Linked DNA regions of Homo sapiens: regions 2 and 3 are each linked to region 1. The links come from fine-mapping of genetic effects on gene expression. A gene starts in region 1. Each other region holds a variant in brackets. All regions are shown on one strand. Distances are from middle to middle.

Evidence for each region. PIP is the estimated chance that this variant, and not a neighbour inherited with it, causes the effect. A credible set is the group of variants that fine-mapping cannot tell apart.
Region 2: its variant is the best candidate, but not a certain one, in a credible set for the expression of ENDOV in whole blood (TOPMed, PIP 0.78).
Region 3: its variant is the best candidate, but not a certain one, in a credible set for the expression of ENDOV in gastroesophageal junction (GTEx, PIP 0.70).

Annotation. Positions count from the first base shown.
Region 1 is chr17:80,411,132-80,419,309 of GRCh38, forward strand. It overlaps ENDOV (endonuclease V), which reads left to right and starts at 4,036. Exons shown (of 10, transcript NM_173627.5): 1 at 4,036-4,119; 2 at 4,519-4,690. The coding sequence starts at 4,064. RNF213-AS1 (RNF213 antisense RNA 1) reads right to left here and starts at 4,037. Exons shown (of 2, transcript NR_029376.1): 1 at 3,798-4,037. RefSeq lists an enhancer at 4,469-4,558.
Region 2 is chr17:80,302,153-80,310,330 of GRCh38, forward strand. It overlaps RNF213 (ring finger protein 213), which reads left to right. Exons shown (of 68, transcript NM_001256071.3): 12 at 4,100-4,316; 13 at 4,976-5,049; 14 at 6,866-7,019. Among named protein-coding and RNA genes, the nearest start is that of RNF213, 45 kb to the left of the region's middle. The variant C/T (reference allele first, on the strand shown) is at 4,686.
Region 3 is chr17:80,372,610-80,380,787 of GRCh38, forward strand. It overlaps RNF213 (ring finger protein 213), which reads left to right. Exons shown (of 68, transcript NM_001256071.3): 48 at 1-125; 49 at 366-556; 50 at 1,849-1,980; 51 at 3,151-3,261; 52 at 3,692-3,934; 53 at 4,273-4,354; 54 at 5,153-5,187; 55 at 7,011-7,105. The region is part of intron 1 of RNF213-AS1 (RNF213 antisense RNA 1); the gene reads right to left. Among named protein-coding and RNA genes, the nearest start is that of ENDOV, 38 kb to the right of the region's middle. RefSeq lists enhancers at 1-358, 7,713-8,178 and a silencer at 3,947-4,147. The variant A/G (reference allele first, on the strand shown) is at 4,959.

The DNA of each region.
Region 1 (8,178 bases):
GATTATTGTAAGTGTACCAGGACTCTAAAAAAAAAAAAAGTTTGTATAATGCTATTCTATGCAAGGTATGTAGCCCAAGAAATGACCAACCTGATGTGTGTTATGACCTGAGTCTCCCATGACCACAGCTTTTGAAATAAGATTAAGGACTGAGGACTGGTAGGGACTCATAAACGATACGAGTAAAGTGTTAGCCAAAATGAAAGAAAAAGGGGTGCCCAAACAAGTCACTTTAAAGTTTGATGCCTGTGCTGTCATTAATAGTAATAAGTTAAAAATAGAATGTGGTTCCCTTAATTAGAAAAGAGGCCATATGACAAAAAATAAGTACATTTGTCATAAATTAAAACTGTGTGGAAATAAATGTAAATACTGGTCTTGTGTCATTTAGGCTACTTAAATAAAAAATAAAAAGGATCCTGTCCACCTTCAAAAAGGAAAAAGTGGCCCTTCCTGTACCAGTGGTCAGTGTAACCCCTTAGAACTAGTAATAACCAACCCCCTTGATCCTCGCTGGAAAAAAGGGGAGCATGTAACCCTAGGAATCAATGGGGCTGAACTGGATCCTTGAGTAAATATCATGGTTTGAGGAGAAATTTATAAACGCTCTCCTGAGACAGTATTTCAAACCTTCTATGATCAACTGAATGTGCCTGCACCAGAAATTCCAGGAAAAACAAGACATTTGTTTTTGCAATTAGCCGAGCATGTGGCCCAGTCTCTCAATGTCACTTCATGTTATGTGTGTGGACGAACTGTAATGGGAGATCAATGGCCACGGGAAGCCCGAGAATTAGTACCTACAGACCCAGTTCCTGATGAATTCCCGGCTCAAAAGAATCACCCTGATAACTTCTGGGTCCTAAAAGCCTCAATCATTAGACAATACTGTATATAGCAAGAGTGGGGAAGGACTTCACCTTTCCTGTGGGAAGACTCAGCTGCTTAGGCAAAAACTGTATAATACTACTACAAAAACAGCCACCTAGTGGAGTTCAAACCACACTAAGAAAAATCCATTTAGTAAATTCCCAAAGTTGCAAACTGTGTGAACCCACCCGGAGTCCCACAGGGACTGGACAGCCCCCACTGGATTATACTGGATATGTAGGCATAGAGTTTACACCAAATTACCCGACCAGTGGGCAGGTAGTCATGTTATTGGCACTATTAAACCATCTTTCTTCCTACTGCCCATAAAGACAGGCGAACTCCTGGGCTTCCCTGTCTGTGCTTCCCGCAAAAAGAGAAGCATAGCTATAAAAAATTCAAAAGATAATACATGGCCCCCTGAAAGAATCATACAATATTATGGGCCTGGTACTTAGGCACAAGATGGCTCCTAGGGATACCCGACCCCCATTTACATGCTCAACCGAATCATACGGTTACAAGCTGTCTTAGAAATAATCACTAATAAGACCGGCAGAGCCTTGACTATTCTGGCCTGGCAAGAAACTCAGATGAGAAATGCTATCTATCAAAATAGATTGGCTCTCGACTACTTGCTAGCAGCTGAAGGAGAGGTCTGTAAAAAATTTAACCTTACTAATTGCTGTCTACACATAGATGATCGAGGGCAATTAGTTGAAGACACAGTTAGAAATATGACAAAACTGGCACATGTGCCCGTGCAAGTGTGGCATGGATTTGGTCCTGGGGCCATGTTTGGAAAATGGTTCCCAGCACTAAAAAGATTTAAAACTCTTATATTAGGAGTTACAATAGCAATAGAAACCTGCGTTCTGCTCCCTTGTTTGCTACCCATACTTCTTCAAATGATAAAAAGCTTCATCGCTACCTTAGTTCACCAAAATGCTTCAGCACAACTGTACTATATGAATCACTATCGATCTGTCTTGCAAGAAAACATAGGTAGTAAAAATAAAAGTGACAACTCCCACTACTGAGTGAGATTCTCAGAGAGGGAGAATAAGGGAGACCACCCCTCATATTGTTTTACGCCCAATTTCTGCCTCCAAAGAGAGAAGTAAAAACTAAAAGGCAGAAATGAAATCCACAAGCAGACAGCCTGCACCACACCCTGGGCCTGGTAGTTAAAGATCGACGCCTGACCTAATCAGTGATGCTATCTATAGATTACAGACGTTATATAGAAAAGCACCGTGAAAATCCCTGTCCTGTTCTGTTCCGTTCTAATTACGGGTGCATGCAGCCCCCAGTCACGTACCCCCTGCTTGCTCAATCAATCACGACCCTCTCACGCAGACCCCTGAAGAGTTGTGAGCCCTTAAAAGGGACAGGAATTGCTCACTCGGGGAGCTCGGTTGTTGGAGACGTGAGTCTTGCCGAAGCTCCCAGCTGAATAAAGCCCTTCTTTAACTCGGTGTCTGAGGGGTTTTGTCTGCGGCTTGTCCTGCTACACTCTGGTGGGAAAGACACCGCAGCAGGGGAGCAGGGTGCGCAGGGTGCAGTGGGTGACGCTCATTCGCTGAAAACTGACCCTGCTTTCAAAGCCTTGTCAGTTCCCAAAGCTGTATGAAGCCTTTCCTGAGCCTCAACCTCTAGAGTCTAATTTCATCCTCTGTATTTTCCCCTTTGTTAGTCCAAACTGCGTCATTTTGTAAGCCCCTTTCCATTTTGTAGACCTTGGTCAAAGTGAAACATTCCACGGGGGTTCGAGCCATGAGAAACAGCCTGCCTCTTAACATATTCTGCTGGGACAAAGCGCCAGGAACACCACATTCTGCCGGAACCACCTCATCCTGGGAACACGTTAACATCTTCCCGGACAGCAAGCCATACTGCCTAGATCCCTCCTGCCCAGGCCTATGAGTACCCCAGCCTGTAATCGCTGGTGGGCTCTGGCATTAAGCTGGCCCCCGACAGGTGTTTGCAATACACCTGTGTTGCTGTAGAGCCGCCCGCGCGCCGGCAATCTCACTGTGCGTCATTCTTTAACCTTCACCTTCCCTTCAAAACCTAACACCCTTGACGTTTATATTCAGGCTATTATATATACATACACACATACACCCTTCTGAATCCTCCCAGGAGAATATAAAACCATGGGTTAAACTGCTACACTTCAGCTTCAGTGGCTGCCTTTCAGTGCTTCAAATACACCAACCTCTTTCCCACCCCGGGACCTGCACGAGAAAGCTGCTCCACTCACCCGCCGTGCTCTTTCACTCACCCTTCAGGTGTCTTCAATATCGCCTCTCAGGCCTTTCCCAACCACCGGTTTAAAGTCGGCTCCCCACAAATAAATACATATTCTCCCTCACAGTACTTCGCACAACACCTGGCACAGCGAGAGCACTGAACCAACACTCATTCAATGAGGAACACGAGGTAAGAACCAAGACCCCCCAAGGTCGCCGTACTTTGTCTGGTAGGAGAAGCTTTCTGCCCAGCAAGGTCCGACCCAGATGAAACCCCGTCCAAGTCTGCAGCACCCCCGTGAGTCCAGCCCGCTAAACTGTGAAGAATTTAAATACACGACACCTGCCCTCAAAAGCTTGAGGGCACCCCTGAGCTGCCATCGAGGTGGGGGCGTCAACGACAGGCGCTCAGTAAGTGCTCCTGAGGCAACTGCCGGGCTGTCCTGGACCTGGTGAATCCTTTCGGGGTTCAGCAAAGGCGGACGCTGACCGGGCCAAGGAGTGGGACCTGCAGTGCTGGACCACCCTTTTCCAAGCGCAGAAGTGCCGTGCCCGCCGGCTCTCAACAGGGCAAGAGGCCCCTCTCGCCGTGCAGAGCGCAGCGCTTGCGGCGGGGACAGCAGAGGCGGGACGGGCGTCACGGAGTTCCCGGGTCCTCGCGCGGTCACTTACCTGGCCTCAGCTATCCGCTGAAAAAGGGGCGGACGGCCTCCCGGGATCCGAGCCGATATCGCGCGCGGCGCCGCGGGGCAACCTGAAGCCGTGTGCGTGCGTGTGCGTTCACGCAGGGGCTCACCCAGCGGCCACGGGCTTCTGAAGACCCGGGTGGGAAGTGCGGCCCGGGAAAGCGCAAGCGTCTCCATGGCAACGAGGGCGGACGGCGTCAGAGCGAGTCGCTTCCGGAAGTGACGTGCGGAAGGGGTGCCCGGGACGAAGCCATGGCCCTGGAGGCGGCGGGAGGGCCGCCGGAGGAAACGCTGTCACTGTGGAAACGGTAATGCTGTCAGGCGACGCGCAGGAGGCGGGGGCCGAGGCCGGGCGGCCCTTCGCGGACCCTCCGAGCTCATAGTCTTCAGGCTGTGGAATCGGAGCTGCCACCGCCCGAGACTCCAAAGCAAAGCCCAGTTTCCGGCGCGGAAGCGGAGGGATCTCAGGAATTGTAGTCCGCGGGGTGGGCGCGGTTCTCGCTTCCGGCCAGTTTGTCTGGCCTGCGCTTGCGCGGGTCTCCGCCGCCTGGGCTCCTAGGGACTGTGGCCTCGGCGGTATGTCCCTTGCTTTCCCTTGAAGCGGGAGAAGACCCGGCAGAGGCGCTCTGTCCGCTGCAGCCGCGCGGGTGGAGGAGGCAGAGTCTGAGGTGTGACCCCGACCAAGTTTGACGCTTCTGTCCTCCTAGGGAGCAAGCTCGGCTGAAGGCCCACGTCGTAGACCGGGACACCGAGGCGTGGCAGCGAGACCCCGCCTTCTCGGGTCTGCAGAGGGTCGGGGGCGTTGACGTGTCCTTCGTGAAAGGGGACAGTGTCCGCGCTTGTGCTTCCCTGGTGGTGCTCAGCTTCCCTGAGCTCGAGGTAACCTGGGAGGACGCCGAGCTCGAGGCGGGCCCCTCGGTGGGCTCGGGCGTGCGGTCTCCGGGACAGGGAGCAGTGCAAGCGTAGAACCCGGCTTCTCGTTTTGTAGGATGTCATTAATAGTCTGGGGAGTTGGCCGGGCGCGGTGGCTCACGCCTGCAATCCCAGCACTTTGGGAGGCTGAGGCGGGGGAATCACCTGAGGTCGGGAGTTCGAGACCAGCCTGACCAACATGGAGAAACCCGGTCTCTACTAAAAATACAAAATTAGACGGGTGTGGTGGCATATACCTGTAATCCCAGCTACTCGGAAGGCTGAGGCGGGAGAATCGCTTGAACCCGGGAGGCGGAGGTTGCGGTGAGCCAACATCACGCCATTGCACTCCAGCCTCGGCAACAAGAGCGAAACTCCATCTCAAAAAAAAAAAAAAAAAAAAAAAGTCTGGGGAGTCTTGGAAGGGAAAAAAAGGCAAAAATTAAGGGAATTCTGTGACTATTAAGAATCAGCTCATGAGCTTTATCTTCAAGTCTGATTGTTATCTTGGGTTCTTCATCTCAGTGACCTGTCCACCACGCTCCCAGTTGCCCAAGCTGGAGATCTGCATCCTCCTGGGCCCCTCCGTTCCTCTCGCGTCCAGTTGCACACTAGCTCGCTTTTATTCTGCCTCTTAAATGTCGCTGGAATCTGTCCCCTTGTCTGTTTCCCCTCTGCTCCTTCCCTGGCTGTGCCACCATCACTCCTGTGGGTTCCTGAGCAGCATTTTCATGGGTGCCCTGGCTCAAATGTTCCTCCTCAGTGGTTTCTTTTCCATACTGCCAGCAGACCAATTTTCCTAAAAAGCAAGTATTTTCCTCAAAAGCAACAAGTCCCCTCCCTCCCTCCCTCCCTCCCTTCCTTCCTTCCTTCCTTCCTCCCTTCCTTCCTCTCTCTGTCTCTCTTTCCTTCCTTTCCCCTTCCCCCACTCTGTGCCCAGGCTGAAGTGCAGTGGCATAATCTTGGCTCACTGTCAAGATCTGATCTCAACCTCCTGGACTCAAGTGATCCTCCCACCTTAGCCTGAGTAGCTAGGACCACAGGTGTGAGCCACTACACCCGGCTTATTTTTTTATTTTTTGTAGAGACAGGATCTCACTATGTTGCCCAGGGTGGTCTCCAGCTCCTGGGCTCAAGGGATCCTCCTACCTTGGCCTCCCCAAGTGCTGAGATTACAGGTGGGAACCACCACACCCAGCCCACAAGTCCTCTTAGAACATTGAAGTGCCCTTCTCATGACCTCATGGTGAATAAAGTTCACTCTGGTTGGCATGGCTTCAAGGCCCGTCATGACCTGTCCCCTGCGTAATTTAATATGACGCTGGAGGCTCAGCCCTCACCACTATTCTCAGTTCTTCCCACCTCCTACAGCCCACTGTGAGTCCCTCACGTGTTTGCTACGCTGTATTTGGCGGCCTGACCTTTGCAGTAATGTTTCTTCTGGAAGGGTTTCCATCTGGCTAACTACTACTCATCTCTTTGGGCTCAGTTTAGACATGACGTCCTCCACTAAGCTCCCTCTCATCCCACAAGACGAGGACTTGTCCCTCAGCACCATGTCTTAGTCCGTTTGGGCTGCTGTAATAGAATACCTTAGACTGGGTGGCCTACCCACAGCAGGAATTTATTTCTCACAGTTCTGGAGGCTGGAGGCTCAAGATCAGGGTGCCAGCGCAATCAGGTTGTGGTGACGGCGCTCTTTCAGGTTGCACAGGGCCAGCTTCTTAACCGTGTTCTCACATGGTGATCCACTCACCTCCCTAGAGGCCCCACCTCGTAATACCATCACCTATGGGTTATAATTTCAACATAGGAATTTGGGGAGGACACCAGCATTTAGACCGTAGCAACCCTCTGCTTCCTCTTGTCTTGCTGGGATGGAACTGGCCTGTCTTCCCTACTGGAATATAAACTCCATGATGGTAGAAACCATGTTGCTTTGCCCACCATGGATAGCATGAGGAAGACGCTGGACTCTTCCTTCAAGAGATACGTGTGTGAATGGACAGTGGGCTCATGATTCACATAAGAGTCAACAGCTCCGGAAGCCTCTTGGCGTCACTCGCATTGCTCCTCTGCTGACTCCCGAAGGTGACAAACGTCTTCCTGCTTCCATGGCTTTGTGCTTTACTTGGGAGGCCCTTTTCAGTCCAAATCAAGCAAAAATGTACTGAGTGCCTACTGTGTGCTAAGATTGGGATATTCAGCAGCCCCTACTCTAAGAGGTCCCCTGGCCATTGTGTAGGCTAGCATAGGGAGTGGGGACACAGTCTTAGGGTCCTGACTACTCATGCTCACACCCAACTCTGCCACTCCCCACTTTGCCCTCTAGGCCTCTGTCTCCTTTTTTCTGACTTGAGGATGATAGTGGTATTAATATCCAGCTCACAGAATTGTGATGAGCAGTACATGAAATGCATGGAAAGCAGTTAACACAGCATTCCCTTCCCCCTCCAACTTCTCCTGGCTGCAAATTAATCACCTCATCTGCATCCTGGGCCTCTTTTGAATGCACATGCTGTTAGAGCGCTTCTCACATTGTATTAAAGTTAGTCATTTATGATTCCATTTTTCCCACTGACTGTAGGTTCTCAAGAGTAGGGTGTACCATATTTCTTTTACAACCCCAGCACCAAGCAAAGCACCTGCTACTTCGTCGGTATTCATTGTTCCGGCTATGAAAGCTTAGACTAGGAAAGGATCTTGGAACAGTCTGGTCCACTGGTTCCTGAATGCCCGACCGTGGACCTGCAGGAGCAGAATCACCCAGAAGTGTGTTGAGAAACAGATTCCGTAGGCACATCCACAGAGACAGAAAGTGGATCCTTGGGCCTTGGAGTTGGGGTGGGATGGATGGGAAGTGACTGCTGATGAGGATGAGGTTTATTTAGGGGTTAAGGAAAATGTTCTAAAGTTAGATTGTAGTGATATTGCACAACTCTGTAAATACCAAAACCATCGCATTATATGTTTTAAACAAGTGAACTTTATGGTATGTTAATTGTATCTCAGTAAACCTGTTAGGAAAAAAAACAGGCCGGGCGCAGTGGTTCATGCCTGTAATCCCAGCACTTTGGGAGGCTGAGGCGGCTGGATCACGAGGTCAGGCGATCGAGACCATCCTGGCTAACACGGTGAAACCCTGTGTCTACTAAAAATACAAAAAAAATCAGCCGGGCATGGTGGCGGGCACCTGTAGTCCCAGCTACTCGGGAGGCTGAGGCAGGAGAATGGCGTGAACCTGGGAGGCGGAGCTTGCAGTGAGCCGAGATCGCGTCAGTGCACTCCAGCCTGAGCAACAGAGCAGGACTCTGTCAAAAAAAAAAAAAAAAAAACAGATTCCAGAGCCCTACCCCACTTACTGGGGGAAAAACTCTCCCAGAGTATAGCATAAGAATCTGCTTTTTAAAATAAGCTTTCCTGTGATTCTGAAGCAGAGCTGGGCTGGAGAACCA
Region 2 (8,178 bases), 110 kb before region 1:
AGGTTGGCTAGTGGATACAAAAGTATGGCTAGATAGGACGAGTAAGTTCTAGGGTCCTAGAGCAGTATGGAACGACTGTAATTTACAATTTATTACGTTTTTCAAATAGCTGGAAGAGTGGAGTTTGAATGTTTCCAACACAAAGAAATAAATGTTTGAGATAGATATGCTAATTACCCTGATTTGTACACATTATACACTGTATGCATATATATTGTATCCATATATTTGTACAGATTACAGACTGTATACTTTGTACATAGTATACATTGTAGACATATTTATATGTATATACAGTGCATAAAATGTATTCTCTGTATGCATTTGTATACATTATGTATTGTATACATATATAGAAATATAACACTGTTCCCCATAAATATGTACAATTATTATGTGTCAGTTTAAAAATAATAAAAGCAGCTGGGCTTGGTGGCTCATGCCTATAATCCCAGTACTTTGGGAGGCCCAGGCAGGAGGATTGTTTGAGGCCAGGAGTTCAAGACCAGTCTGGGCACATAGTAAAACCCAGTTTCTACAAAAAAACAAACAAAAAAAATAGTTAGGCATGGTGGGGTGTACCTGCAGTCCCAGCTACTTGGGAGGCTTACATGAGAGGATCGCTTGAGCCAGGGAGGTCAAGGCTGCAGTGGTAGAAGTCCAGATTCCCTAGAAGTTGAAATAAAAGCATCTTTATTTTCAGATTCTTGACAGGTAACCACAAACTTTCTCTTTAAGTATAATCTCTCTGAAATACTGAATACTGGGTTATTTAATAGAACAGTCATAATGACCACAGATTAACCCTTCTAAGCAAAATAGATTAATTTATTTTGGCCTTGAAATGGTCTTTCTCTTATTAATGTGCTAGAATGTATTCATTCATTCACTGGATGAATACTTGAAGAGCACCTTCCTTGTGCCAGGAAGTACTACTCAAGGCACAGCGTGTACAGCACTGCTCAAAACAGACAGCTGCTCCTGGCCTTGTGGAGCTTGCATTCTAGCTGGAGAGGCAGGCAGTTAATACATCAGTAAGTCCTATTGATGAGAGAGCTCTGGAAATTCCTCCTTCCCCTAGCCTGGAGGCTCAGGCCACAGAATCTGCTAAGGTCTGAAGGTAGGGTAGGAGAACAGAGGTAATGACTGCAGCACTCTGGGCCTTGCAGTGAGAACAAGACAGTGACCATCCAATTGGGAAAGGGGCTGGAGAACTGAAAGAGACGCCCCCTCATAAAGCATGATGCTCAGAGCCTGCCAAATGCCAAAGACTGGGGACAGCAGAAAAAATGAGGCAGTTGCTCTGTGCCCCTGGATCCCAACTTCTGCTAAAGGCAGTGTTACGGTCTTGCCTTTAGAAGGCGTAAAAGCCTTTGGAAACCAATTCTATTCCTTTTCTTTTTTCTTTTCTTTTCTTTTTTTTTTTTTTTTGAGACAGTCCTGCTCTGTCGCCCAGGCTGGAGTACAGTGGCGCGATCTCTGGTCACTGCAACCTTCGCCTCCCAGGTTCAAGTGATTCTTGTGCCTCAGCCTCCCAAGTAGCTGGGACTACAGGTGCATGTCATCACACATCACATGTGGCTAATTTTTGTATTTTTAGTGGAGATGGGTTTTGCCATGTTGGCCAGGCTGGTCTTGAACTCCTGGCCTCAAGTGATCTGCCCGCCTCAGCCTTCCAAAGTGCTGGGATTACAGGCGTGAGCCACCCACTGTGCCTGGCCAGCCGTTGGGAACCAATTCTAATTAAAGCTACAACAAAGCTGTAGTTCATCTAAACTATTAACTCAGCCCCTGATAACAGAAGAGGCCACTAGATGATCAAGAGAGAAAACAGTCAATATAGTCAGACCCATGGATGGTCCATATTTACCTAGAAAGGCTAGATATAGTAGAAATATAGAGTACCTTTTATTATTATTGCTATTTTTATGTACTTATCTTTAAATATCTTGAAAAGTCTGCAGTAGCATTGTTCCTAAAGATCCAATCGTTCAGGTAAAAGTGGCCTTTAGTATGCAGTGAACCTTTATTGATATGTTTTTCATAACTTCTGTTACTTCTAGGGAGCCTTGCTTTATTTCTTTTCCATTGTCAACATTTTGGGTCTCCAGTACTGTGTTCCAGAATCAGCATTATTTAAGGGCCTTCGCTGAGCCCACTTGGGCTGTTTGATCCTGGACACTCGTTAATAATAATTAAGAGGCTTGGCTGGGTGCAGTGGCTCACACCTGTAATCCCAGCACTTTGGGAGGCCAAGGCAGGTGGATCACAAGGTCAGGAGATCGAGACAAGCCTGGCTAACACAGTGAAACCCCATCTCTACTAAAAATACAAAAAATGAGCCGGGCGTGGTGGCAGGCGCCTGTAGTCACAGCTACTGGGGAGGCTGAGGCAGGAGAATGGCGTGAGCCTGGTAGGCAGAGCTTGCAGTGAGCCGAGATCACACCACTGCACTCCAGCCAAGGCAACAGAGTGAGACTCCAACACAAATAAATAAATAAATAAATAATAATAATAATAATTAAGAGGCTTAATTATTGGGGTATATCCCTTTTATTGTAAAATATACATAATCTCCAGTTTACCATGTTAACTCCTTTTCAAGGCACAGTTCCCTGGCACCAAGCACATTCACACTGCTGTGTAGCCGTCAGCACCATCCACCTCCCGAACTCAGCTTCCCCAGCTGAAACTCCATCCCCATGAAACACGACCTCCACACTCCCCCTCCTCCTGGTAACCACTGTTCTCCTCTCTGTCTCTAGGATTTTGACTTCTCTGGGGACCTCACGTGAGTGGAATCACACAGGATTTGTCCTTTTGTGTCTGATTTATTTCACTGAGCATAATGTCAAGATTCATCCATCTCAATGAATTCTTTTTGTGTATTTATTTATTTATTTGTAGAGATGGAATCTTGCTATGTTGCCCAGGTTGGTCTCAAACTGCTGGCCTCAAGCTATCCATCCTCCTGCTTTGGCCTCCCAAGTTGTGGGGATTACAGACATGAGCCACTGCACCCAGCAGTGAACTTTTTTTTTTTTTGAGACAGTTTTGGTCTCATTGCCTATGCTGGAGTACAATGGCACGATCTTGGCTCACCGCAACCTCTGCCTCCTGGGTTCAAGTGATTCTCCTGCCTCAGCCTCCCAAGTAGCTGGGATTACAGGTGTGCGCCACCACGCCTGGCTAATTTAGGATTTTTAGTAGAGACGGGATTTCTCCATGTTGGTCAGGCTGGTCTTGAACTCCCAACCTCAGGTGATCTGCCTGCCTCGGCCTCCCAAAGTGCTGGGATTACAGACGTGAGCCACTGCGCCCGGCCTGATTTTATTACTATTTTTTAATATTACTGCTCCTTGTAGAACAGGGCTACCCCATAGGAGCATGCCCAGAATGGCCAGCAGTGAATTCTTATTCCGTATTCTGAATTCTATATTAAGTTAATTCTCCTTTTTTCTTTCCTTTTTTTTTTTTGAGACAGAGTCTCACTCTGTTGCCCAGGCTGGAGTGCAGTGGCGTGATCTCGGCTCACTGCAATCTCTGCCGCCGGGGCTCAAGTGATTCTTCTGCCTCAGCCTCCTGAGTAGCTGGGATTACAGGATTACAGGCATGTGCCACCATGCCTGGCTGATTTTTGTATTTTTAGTAGAGACGCAGTTTCACCGTGTTGGCCAGGCTGGTTGCAAACTTCTAACCTCAACTGATCCACCTGCCTCAGCCTCCCAAAGTGCTGGGATTCAGGCGTGAGCCACCACGCCCGGCCATTAAGTTAATTCTCAGTAGGTTGTTCTGTACTTTTCATTTGATTCACTGCATATTTTTGTTTTCCACATAGCCTTTATTTTATTTTTTAAAGTAGAGACAGGGCCTCACTAGGTTCCCCAGGCTGGTTTCAAGCTCCTGGGCTCAAGTGATCCTCCCGAGTCAGCCTCCCAAGTATTGGGATTCAGGTGTGAGCCACCACGCCTGCCCTCAAGTAGTATTTAAATCATTTTTGAATTCGGGACTGTTTCTGTCCCTCCAGCATTGGTTTCCTCCATTTTCCCTCACTGATCTCACTGCGTCTCTTTTCTCCGTCCCTATTTCTCTTATGCAGGAGTTCCCTACTTCAGTTTATGAGAGAGAAGCAGCATTTGCTGAGCATAGACGAGCCTCTCTTCCGGTCCTGGTTTAGTCTGCTACCTCTGAGTCACCTGGTTATGTATATGGAAAACTTCATTGAGCACCTGGGTCGTTTTCCTGCTCATATCCTGGACTGTCTTTCAGGGATTTACTACCGGCTTCCGGGACTTGAGCAAGTCTTGAATACGCAGGTTTGTGTCTGAAGTCGGCTCTGGAGTCCTGGCTTAGCAAAAGCAGACTAGATAACTAAACATGGAAAGCTCAGGATTCTTATTCCTAAAAAACAGACAGTGGGCTGGGTGCGGTGGCTCACGCCTGAATCCCAGCACTTTGGGAGGCCGAGGCGGGCAGATCACGAGGTCAGGAGATCGAGACCATCCTGGCTAACACAGTGAAACCCCGTCTCTACTAAAAATACAAAAAAATTAGCTGGGCGTGGTGGTGGGTACCTGTAGTCCCAGCTACTCAGGAGGCTGAGGCAGGAGAATGGTGTGAACCCGGGAGGCGGAGCTTGCAGTGAGCCGAGATCACGCCGCTGCACTCCAGCCTGGGTGACAGAG[C/T]GAGACTCCATCTCAAAAAAAAAAAAAAAAAGAAGGCGTCTCATGTGATGCACTTCGTAGCTGCCATTCTTCCTTTCACATTTTTTGGTGGAGAAAATGGTATAAGTTTAAATCCTGAGTTTTATCTGTAAAAGAGGTAAGATTAGTATGTGAGCACCTTAAAATTTGTTTGTAGGAAGAAAACAATGTATACCATATTGATGTTGGATTTTTTTCAGCTCTGTTTTAGCAATGACAGTGGCATTGTGATTCAATCTTTTGTCCTGTTTTTCTTTTTTTCTCTGCCTTAGGATGTTCAGGATGTTCAGAACGTTCAGAACATTTTAGAAATGCTGTTGCGACTCCTGGACACTTACCGGGACAAGTAAGTGGAAAGCACGATGCAGTCTCTCCCTCACATGCGGCCCCCGGGGGCTTCCTCTGACCCCTATAATTGGCCGTGACCCACATGTGCTGTTGTAACAGCAAGGTCATAAATTAATATGTGGCCCACTTCTCTTCTCAGGTTATTAATATTGTCGTCTGTTTTTTTTTTTTTTTTTTTGAGTCAGAGTCTTACTCTGTTGCCCAGGCTGGAGTGCAGTGACGCAATCTTAGCTCACTACAACTTCTATCTCCTGGTTCAAGTGATTCTCCTGTCTCAGCCTCCCGAGTAGCTGGGATTACAGGCGCACCCCACCACGCCCAGCTAATTTTTGTGTGTTGGTTTGTTTGTTTGTTTGTTTTTTTGAGATGGAGTCTCACTCTTGTTGCCCAAGCTGGAGTGCAATGGCACCATCTTGGCTCACTGCAACCTCTGCTTCCCAGGTTCAAGTGATTCTCCTTCCTCAGCCTCCTGAGTAGCTGGGATTACAGGCGCATGCCACCACGCCTGGCTAATTTTTGTATTTTTAGTAGAGATGGGGTTTCACCATGTTGGCCAGGCTGGTCTTGAACTTCTGACCTCAGGTGATCCGCCTGTCTGGGCCTCCCAAAGTGCTGGGATTACAGGCGTGAGCCACCATGCCTGGCCGTCTGTTTTTTTTTTTTTTTTTTTTTTAAAGGGAAATAATAGATATCAGCTGCTAAGATTTGGGTTTATCTCCCCCTGATCTTTTTTCCTATACATTTTTCCCTTACTTGTAAATAGTCATGATACTGCATATGCCTGGTGGGCGTTCTGCATTTTTTTAATACTTAGTCAGTTTAAGATAAAAATCAAAGGTAGCTTTATATAATTATCCAAAATCATTTGCTCCTGCAAATTTGTGACCTCTGATACCCTGAGGGGTCAGCAGACAGAATGCAGAACCACTGAAATGTGCCAGTGAGCGATGGGATGGGTGTTGTCTGAGCTGTTCTCTGAGCGGCTCGGGCACTTCCAGTCTTCGTTCACCTCCTTTGTTCACGTCTCTGCCGATGTTGATCCAGCACCTGTGACTTGAGGATCCCCCCCACAAGCTCCCTATCTCCCCACCACTGTGTGTCACATTCTCAGCCCAGGGAGTCCTTTCTTACACCGCCTTCCCAGTCCCCTCCATCAACTCTCCTCTTAAGCTCCTCCTAAGTGTCCTCTTAAGTCTCTCCTGAGTCCCCTCCTGAGTCCCTCCCAAGGCTCCTCCTGAGTCCCTCCTAAGCCTCCTTCTGAGTCCCTCCTAAGCCTCCTCCTAAGTCCCCTCCTGAGTCCCTCCTAAGGCTCCTCCCGAGTCCCTACCGAGTCCCTCCTAAGGCTCCTCCTAAGTCCCTGCTCTGTCCATGTGTCCCTCAGAAAACACAAAACCCAGGCCCGGCAGAGCTGGAGCCAATTCCACACGGGCTGCACGCTCTTCTACTATTTCTTTCTCTTCCTCCCTCCTTTCTGTTTCTTTCTGAATATTTTTTCAAATTTATGTCATATTTTAATGTCTAGTAATAAACATCCCTTGCCTTTTTTCACATCTTGGAACGCACTGAGGAGTGTTTGGACTTGCTTTGGTTAGAACAGTTGAGACTACAGAGACAAAACAAGAGGACTTTGCTTCCTTTTTATCTTAGTCACAAGTTCAGGACTGACTGAGATTTTCCAGACGTTAACCTAGATAAGGTCAAACAAATGCCCTGTTGGTAGTTATTTTGAAGGAAGGAGCTAGTCATCAATGGTAACCATTTTCTGGCTTCTCCTAAATCCTTGCCGGGATTTCTCTTAACTCTTTGCGGGGCAGGATTCCCGAGGAGGCCTTGTCACCATCCTACCTGACTGTGTGTCTGAAACTGCATGAAGCCATCTGCAGCAGCACAAAGCTACTTAAGTTTTACGAGCTGCCAGCCTTATCTGCCGAGATTGTCTGCAGAATGATTAGACTTCTATCTCTGGTGGTAAGTGGAGTCAACACACAAGGTATCACACCCGGGATAGGTGCGGAATTTCAAGCAGCCTCAATTTGGAAAGGAAACAGACTGATTCCCGGGTGCTGGGATGAGATGGAGCGGTGGTTTCAGCAGTGGACATTTCTTGTGCACCTGCTTGATGCTGGGTTCTGTTCTGGGTGTGGGGGGTGTCAGTGGGCCAGGGTCTGCCCTTCTGCCACCTTGGGCTTTCCTGGGAGGGAGGCAGGGAGTTAATGTGTGGCCATCAGCTGGTCATGGGGAAACCAGAGAGCTGGCGCAGGGGCTGGGGGTCAGGCAACGCCACGCGGAGAAGACGACTTTTCTTTTTTCTTGATTCTGTTGTTTGCAGAGAACTACGGGGACCATTTTCCTCCCAAAAAATACATGTCCAAACATGGTCTTTCCCACCTTCTTGACATTGTAGCTTGAATACAGTAACAAAGGCCATAGCGCCACACATCTGCCCCCCGCTGCATGTCGTGTCCCAGGTCTGATGGCAGGATGACCCGGCTCCTCCGTCCCAAAGAAAGCCACTGTTGTGACTTCTCCCATGGATCAGTTTTTTTTTTGTTTTTTGTTTTTTGTTTTTTAAGACGGGGTCTCACTCTGTCACCCAGGCTGGAGTGCAGTGGCGTGATCTCGGCTTACTGCAAGCTCCGCCTCCTGGGTTCACGCCATTCTCCTGTCTCAACCTCCCAAGTAGCTGGGACTACAGACGCCTGCCACCACGCCTGGCTAATTTTTGTATTTTTAGTAGAGATGGGGTTTCACCGTGTTAGCCAGGATGGTCTCGATCTCATGACCTCATGATCCGCCTGCCTTGGCCTCCAAAGTGCTGGGATTACAGGCTTAAACCACCACGCCCAGCCTCCCATGGATCAGTTTTACCTGTCTTCCAGCTTTGACCTTTCTGCCTCCGACTTTCCCCACTCACCCCCATGTCTCTGAGCTCTGTCTGTGTGGTGCAGAGATCGGCAATTCCTTCTTTCCCGTCTCTGTGCAGTTTTCACCCACTTGAGTTCATGAGTTTCAGTTTGAAAGTGATGTAAGGTTTAATGTTTAGACTGATCATTTGTTTGTTTTTTTGAGATGGAGTTTTGCTCTTGTTGCCCAGGCTGGAGTGTAGTGGCGCCATCTCAGCTCACTG
Region 3 (8,178 bases), 39 kb before region 1:
TCCAGCAAGCCGGGGCCGAGAGCCTGCCAACGAGGCCTCGGTTGAATACCTGCAAGAGGTGGCCCGGATCCGCCTCTGCCTCGACAGAGCTGCAGATTTCCTCTCGGAGCCTGAGGGAGGCCCAGGCAAGTCTTCTCTGCCTTGCTTTCCTTTGGGTTTAAAGACTCCGTTATTTAGAAATTCAGGAAGTATGGGAAACTAGTTCTTCGAATAGACTACTACTGGGCTTTTCTACATCCCCTCTCCCCTGGATGTGTTTCTGTGAATGCCTGTGGGTAGGTCCGATGCCCTCTGGTTGGCCTTGTGTCCTACAATAAATGCCCTAAGTCACCAGCCACTCACCCGCTTTCTCGTTGGCCTCTCAGAGATGGCCAAGGAGAAGCAGTGCTACCTGCAGCAAGTCAAGCAGTTCTGTATCCGGGTGGAGAACGACTGGCACCGGGTGTACCTGGTGCGGAAGCTCAGCAGCCAGCGGGGGATGGAGTTCGTGCAGGGCCTCTCCAAGCCCGGCCGCCCGCACCAGTGGGTGTTTCCCAAGGACGTTGTCAAGCAGCAGGTGAGAAGCGGGGCCGGGCAGCACACAAACATGCACCCCCACAGCCCCATACACCCCAAACCCACACACCCCCCTACCCTCACACCCTACCCCCCCCACACCCCACCCCCTCACACCTTCCCCACCACATACCCTCATACCCCCACACCTCACCCTCACACCCCCACACCTCACCCTCACACCCAGGGATGGTGCCACTGCTTCCGCGTTCCGCCTGCCCTTAGCATCCCCAGAGCCAGGAAGGAAACCTGCCGCTTGTCTGTCTGGTCCTTTGTCTCTGTGCTTCAGCTGATTTGCCCCAGCTTGTGATCATGTTTACACTGCCTGCTGTAGGGCCAAGGTGAGGGCACTCACCTCAGAGCTTCTTTAATTAGGCATCACTTCTAATTGAATTTCACTCAAGGAAAGTAGAACATTCTTGTGGCCTTTGCTTTCAGCGAATTAAACGTAGTTCAGCTTGCAAGGTGCGACCTTTTTACCTCTGGCAGGCAGAGACAGGCAAGAGCAAGAACTAGGAATAGAAGAATTGCAGAAGAGGCTTCAAGGCCAGGCTGGGCACAGTGGCTCTCACCTGTAATTCCAGCACTTTGGGAGGCCGAGGCAGGCGGATCACTTGTGGTCAGGAGTTTGTCAAGACCAGCCTGGCCAACATGGTGAAACCTTGTCTCTACTTCAAAGAAAAAAAAAATTAGCTGGACATGATGGTGGGTGCTTGTAATCCCAGCTAGTCGGGAGGCTGAGGCAGGAGAATCACTTGAACCCGGGAGGCAGAGGTTGCAGTGAGCCGAGATTGCACCACTGCACTCCAGCGCCTGGGCGATAGAGCGAGACTCCGTCTCAAAAAAAAAAAAAAAAAAAAGAGGCTTCAAGGCCTCTCAGTGGTCCTTTCCAGATACCCAGAAATTAACAAATTCTTATTGTCCAGGGGATACAAAAATGGTACTAAGAACCCCGGCACTGTTTGACTACCACCTGGGGTTTAGAGTTGACATGACTTGAGCCACCCGGCCTCAGGTGTGGTGCGGTGCGCCGCAAACGGAGGAAGCAAGCACCTCCCCAGGTAGCGCTGCCGTCGGCAGGCATTCCCTGCACTTGCACCTCTTCGTCTACTGAGGAGGAAGCTCCCTGCGAAGAGGGCACCAGACTGTCCTGCCTCAGGCCAGGTCAGGGAATCCCAGCTTGGCTGCCTTTAAACCTCGAATGATCAACCACCTGGTTCCTGTACCCGTTCAGACGGTTCTTTGCAAGACATTCCTCCCATTGTTCACCCCCAACTAACCTCTGTATTCCAGGGGCTGCGGCAGGACCACCCAGGCCAGATGGATAGGTACCTGGTGTACGGCGATGAATACAAGGCTCTCCGTGATGCTGTGGCCAAAGCTGTCCTCGAGTGCAAGCCACTGGGCATTAAGACTGCTCTGAAGGTAGGATGGGCCCGTGGCTTCTCTCTGATACCAGGTGGCATCCCTTGGAGCCTGCATGTTCCCTGGTTTATGTCAAATGATGCAGGGTGATGGACCACTGATGCAGCCCATCACGTGACACTGTATTGGAAGTCACGTGCCCACAGCCTCCAGGGCGCACCTGGCTAGTGTGCGTGAACCAGTGGCTGGAACAGGACAGCTATGACAGTTGAGCTGGGTTGACAGATTTGCTGTGTCTTGCTGATCTGCCAAGTCCATCAGCAGCGCCTTTTGATTTATGCCCATTACTTCCTTTGAGACCCTGCTGGAAAACAGTCTAAGAAAGATGCTGACACAACTATTAATAGCAAAATTCATACCTAGATGTATTCATAATTCAGATATGCATGTGTGTTTAATAAAAATACATATGTTGGTGTAGTGTGGGAAGTTAAAAAATATAAAGATGTTTTTAGAATCTAACCTTTAAATTGGTCTGGTCTTGCTTCCTTTTTGAGTCCCTGTGCCAGGAAAAGAGGAAATGGAAAATCCTCTTTCTGCTCAGAAGTTTCTAAGACCAGTGAAGGAGTCAGAAGAACAGATGGTGATTCCGTTGCTTCTGTCATTAAGCTGGCTGCTAAATATGCGTTGAGTTTAATCTGAGAGTATTTCAGGAACTTTGTAGCCCAAAAGTTGCTCGCCAGAAGACTGCCCATGTGGGGCATGACCCCAGGTGTCCAGGCCTGGAAAAGGCTCCTTCCCTTTTGGTGGGTTGAGGGCTGAGGCATGTGAAAAGTTTCTTTTCACATGCAAACTTCGTGGGCCTCTGGCCCTTAGGTAGATCTGGCAGGCAGCGGTGCGGGGGCGTCTATCCTATAATCCTAGCACTTTGGGAGGCCGAGGCATGCAGATCACAAGGTCAGGAGTTTGAGACCAGCCTGGCAAACATGGTGAAACCCCGTGTCTACTAAAAGAAAAAAAAAAAGAATTAGCCGGACATGGTTGCGTGTGCCTGTAGTCCCAGCTACTCGGGAGGCTGAGTTAGAATCGCTTGAACCCGAGAGGCAGAGGTTGCAGTGAGCCGAGATCATGCCACTGCACTCCAGCCTGGGTGACAGAGCAAGACTCCATCTCAAAAAAAAAAGATGTGTTGAGCTTTTAAATTCTTACTTGATACCCTTGATTTTGCAGGCCTGCAAGACCCCCCAAAGCCAGCAGTCAGCCTACTTCCTGTTAACACTGTTTAGAGAGGTGGCTATTTTGTACAGATCCCACAATGCAAGCCTCCACCCCACGCCAGAGGTGAGTAACCGCCTGCAGGGCTGTGTTCAAAGTCTCAGTATTTGGAGGGATTTTATTGAATAGAATGAAAGTTATCAACACAAATCATACCATAATTTTTTTATCTAGGATAGAGGTTCTCAACCTTGTTATGTGGAGGAACACATAACCAAGCTGTTTAACCCAAAGCTTGTAGAATTATAATGAAAACTAAAGCCAAGAACATAAGATAATGTTTAACAGAATAGAATATCAAAATTAATGCTTACGTATGTGGATGCTGTGTTTGTATATGCACAATTCTCTTCTCTGAAAAATTTCCCCCTCAAATGGTGGTGATTTCTCCATATTTACCTTGATATTTGATGTGTATTTGGTGTCAGTGTATGTCTAAGAGCAATTCACACAATATTCTTTGATACATCTTAATGTTAAGTTTTTTTCCTGTCAGCAATGTGAAGCTGTGAGCAAATTCATTGGCGAATGCAAGATCCTTTCACCTCCTGATATCAGCCGTTTTGCAACATCGCTCGTGGACAATTCTGTGCCATTGTTGAGGGCGGGGCCTAGTGACAGCAACCTTGATGGAACGGTGACAGAAATGGCCATTCATGCTGCAGCCGTCCTTCTGTGTGGACAGAATGAACTCTTGGAGCCCCTAAAGAATCTGGCCTTCTCCCCAGCCACCATGGCGGTAAGAGTAGGCCACAATTCCATCGGCCTTCACTGGAACACCCCCCAGAGCTTGTCACTGTAGAGACCGAGCTGCAGCTGTGGGAACTCTTGAGCATCTTTATCTCCTCAGTTCTCTGCCTTTGTGTCACCTGATTCTTGAGCACACAAGATAGTGACAGACTTGCCTTGCCCTTTGTTATTTCACAGGAAGCTGTTCTGTTTTCTTCACAGACAGCTTGAGAAGTCCAGCAGAAGGAAAGCAGAGTTCCCTTTCTTCCTCTAGGCCTCCTGCTGAGCAGCAGCACCCAGGTGACAAGCTCACTTATCTAGAGCTGTCTCTGTCTTCTTGTTTTTCAGCATGCTTTTCTTCCAACCATGCCTGAAGACTTGCTGGCTCAAGCTCGGAGGTGGAAGGGTCTGGAGCGAGTCCACTGGTACAGTAAGTGTTGGGGTCTAGATGACCCCACACTCCTTTGAGCTTCAAAGGGTGTCCAGATGCTATGAAGCATTGGGTTCGACTTGGGGTCCACGTGGTTTGTGCCTCAGGGTCCAAAACCACCTGCATTCTACCGGTGGCGTCTGCAGAAGACGAATGGCTTGAAGGAGCTGGCACTCCGCCGGCTAGATGATCCAAACCATTTCATTTCTTTGTCGTGTGGAAAAGGCCCTCTGTGATGCACTTCTGTTCTCTGGAATATGCCATTTTGGGAGAAGGGAGGGACTGGGAACCACATCAGAGACGCATTCAAAGGCCCACCACAAAACAAAGTTTTTGACACAAAGCTCTTCTGAAATATATGAAATATAGAACCGGGAGACTGACTCATATAACCCATGACATGTAAATTTTGCTGTTGCCTGAGTAAATATTTTAAAACTAGTTTTTAAAGTTGTTATAAAATATGCTCATGACAAAAAAAAAAAAATCAAGGAAAATAGAAAGGTCTAGAATCCTGTCCACCTTGCCTCCAAAAGTACCCCTGGTATGGGCCTATATTCTAATTGCTCTTTACTTGATAAAATTAATAAAATTAGACTCAGAC[A/G]TTTTTCACTGACAACATACATTTATTAAGCTTCAGGCAGGTGTCATGTAACTTAACAAATTAGCGTGGGATGCTCTGGACAGTCATTCTCATATTGTGGTCAGGGCCAGAGAGTAGAGAGTTAGCTTTCCCTTTTCAATGTGGGTCATTGGGTGAAACCTCATTAGCCAATGTGTGTCCTGTTCTCTTCACAGCTTGTCCCAACGGCCATCCTTGCTCCGTGGGAGAGGTGAGTCTTGGTATTTAAGATAGGGTTTGAGGGGTGGCGTGCACTCCTGGGTTGGAGGAGGGGGATCGTGGGTCAGGAGAGTGAGGCTCTCGGCCTTCCAGGAGAGCACAGGCTCACCGAGGACTGCCCAGGGTGCTCTGAGCAGGGCAATGCCAATGGCGCTAAGGGTTTCTAGCCCAGGGCTTCTCAGACTCAGCACTGTGGACGTGGCTCTGCGGCGTGGGCTGTCCTGTGCACTGCAGGCTGTCTGGCAGTATGCCTGACCTCGAGTCCCTGGATGCCAGGAGCACCCACTCCTCCCAGTGTGACAGCTAAAACCAGACATTGACAAAGGTCCCCTAGGAAAGAAAATTGCTACTGGTTGGGAACTGCTGCTAGCCATTCTTTCTAGCCACTGCAGCATGGGGTCAGTGAGCCTTGTCTTGATAGAATGGCAAGGTGTTGCCTGGACCACAGGCTGCATTATTAGCCCTCAGAGGAGGTGTGGTCCAGATGCCAAAGGAAAAAGCCACGTGTAGGCTGTGCGCCATGGGGGAAGAACTGTTGATTATTCCTCTCTGGATTCCCAAGCATCTAGCCTAGAGCCCTCCATACACAGTATCTGTACTTGCTGAGCAAGAGGCTGGTGGGTTGAGCTGACACGTGGTAGTTAGTTATTAGTATTACTTACTTGGTTGAGATATGTCTGGCTCTCTTACCCAGGCTGGAGTGCAGAGTGACATGATCATAGCTCACTATAAACATTGAACTCCTGGGCTCAAGCGATCCTCCCGCCTCGGCCTCCCAAAGTGTTGGGATTATGAGCCACTGTGCCCAGCCTGATACACGTCATTTAATAATGTATATAAGAGATACGGAGGGAGAAAAACTGTTACATACACTTCATTTTTCTGAGCTTCAATCACTTCCTTGTCCATGAAATGAGGACGCTGAAATAGAGTCTATCCAAGAATGCTCCCAGCTCTGAAATTCTGTAACTGGTTTGGTGTGTTATCAGCCGTGACTCTCAGTATATTGTGGCACAATATCTGATTTTGAAAAATAAGCCTTTGGAAGTAGATTATGTGATTAGATTTTTTTAAATAAAAAAGTCCAAGCCAGGTGTGGTAGGTCACACCTGTAATCCCAGCACTTCAGGAGGCTGAGGCAGGTGGATTGCTAGATCCCAGGAGTTTGAGACTGGCCCGGGCAACATGTTGAAACCCCGTCTCTACAAAAAAACACAAAGCATCAGCAGGGCATGGTGGTGCATGCGTGCATGCGTGCATGCGTGTGGTCCCAGCTACTTGGGAGGCTAAGGTAGGAGGATTGCTTGAGCCTGGGGAGGTCAAGGCTGTAGTGAGCCGTGATGGTGCCACTGCACTCCAGCCTGGAGGACAGAGCGAGGCTCTGTCTCATAAAAATTGATATATGAAAAAGTCCAAATGAATATAAGGAAGTCAGTTTGGAAGCTCTTCTAGTATTCTTGGTATTAGATCATGAAGTGCCACAGGCTAGTGTGATAGATGGAGGGATGGAAAAAGTGCTGAATACAAGAAAGGAAGGTTGAATTTTATATATTTGTCTATAAAGTGTCACTCTGGGAATAAAGCTTAAATTGTCTCACTTATTTAAAAAACAGTTCCAGTTTGCCCACGTGCAACATTAGTGAGTACCTACCCTGTTCCCATGGGTTCTCCACCCACCCGAAACAAGCACACACTGGGACAATCTGAGGGTGCTCACGTCTGCCGGTGATAAGGAGGTGTTCATTTGCATGATGGCATTTGTGCATAAAATGGTACTGCTCCAGAAGTGGTTCTAGTGCCCTGTCTTCACCCTAGTGTGGCAGGCCGATGGAACAGAGCATCTGCATTGACTGCCATGCGCCGATTGGAGGCATTGACCACAAACCTCGGGACGGCTTTCATCTGGTCAAGTATGTGGGTCAGGATTCTATTTCCTAAGTACTCAAACTTTGGGGTGTTGGGCTGTTTTTATTCCAGCTGATAAAGTGATACTCAAGATAGTACTAATTACTCCAGTACATGTGGGCCTGTGTCATATTGAATAGCAATGCCAAAGTCCCAGCAGTCACACAGCAGGGAGGCATCTGATCTGTTGTTGGATCCCTGGGCCCTGAAATGCAAAGCAGGCTACCCTTTAACAGCTGTTAATATGAATACAGGTGTCTTCCTTTTGGGCCTTGGGTGCACCTTCTGTAGAAATATGCATGACATAAACAGATGATCTAATTCACGAGGACATCTATGTCTGCAGGACCAAAACCTGGGCATCCGTCTGTCTCAGCAGATGCCATCTCACTTGCCAGCAATCTTAGCTTTCTCCATTTTTTATTTTTTGAGAAAAATGAAGGAGACAGACATAGTCTTATGAAATACCAGACTTCAGAATCCAGGTACAAATCCGATCCCACAATCCCATGCTGAGATGAATGTGGTTCTAAATGCTCCTTTCAGAGAGTGAGTGGGACCTGCGTGGGGGCCTCACATTCTGACTGTTCCCTGCAGTCACAGCTTAAAATACTTTCATGTTATCTCCAGAAACTGTCACAGTGTCCTCCATCCTCTAATAGTTTTGCCACTGAGAGCATCGGCCACACTGCATCTCCTCTCTGCCGGACTTTAGATCCCGGTTTTTCCTTTGGGGAGATGAGAACAATATGGACACCCATGGGATGCCGACTGTCCTCCCAAACTCTAGCTGTTCTTAGCCCAACCGCTCCTCTCCTGACAAAGACTTCAGTGGAAAAGACGGGTCCAGGCCTGCGTCTTAACACCCTGCCCGGGGATCAGCATCAATACCACACAGCGCAGCCACCTGACGCTGAGAATGCGGTCGGGTCTGGTCCACCGGAAAGGCGAGTCTATCATGAGAGAGACTCTTAGGAACATGGTCCAGGCTTTGTGGAACAGCAAGTACTCTTCACATAACTCTCTTCTCAGCCGTAAGCCTCACTCCAAGTGCTGAGAAAGTGCAGCGTGCCAAAGC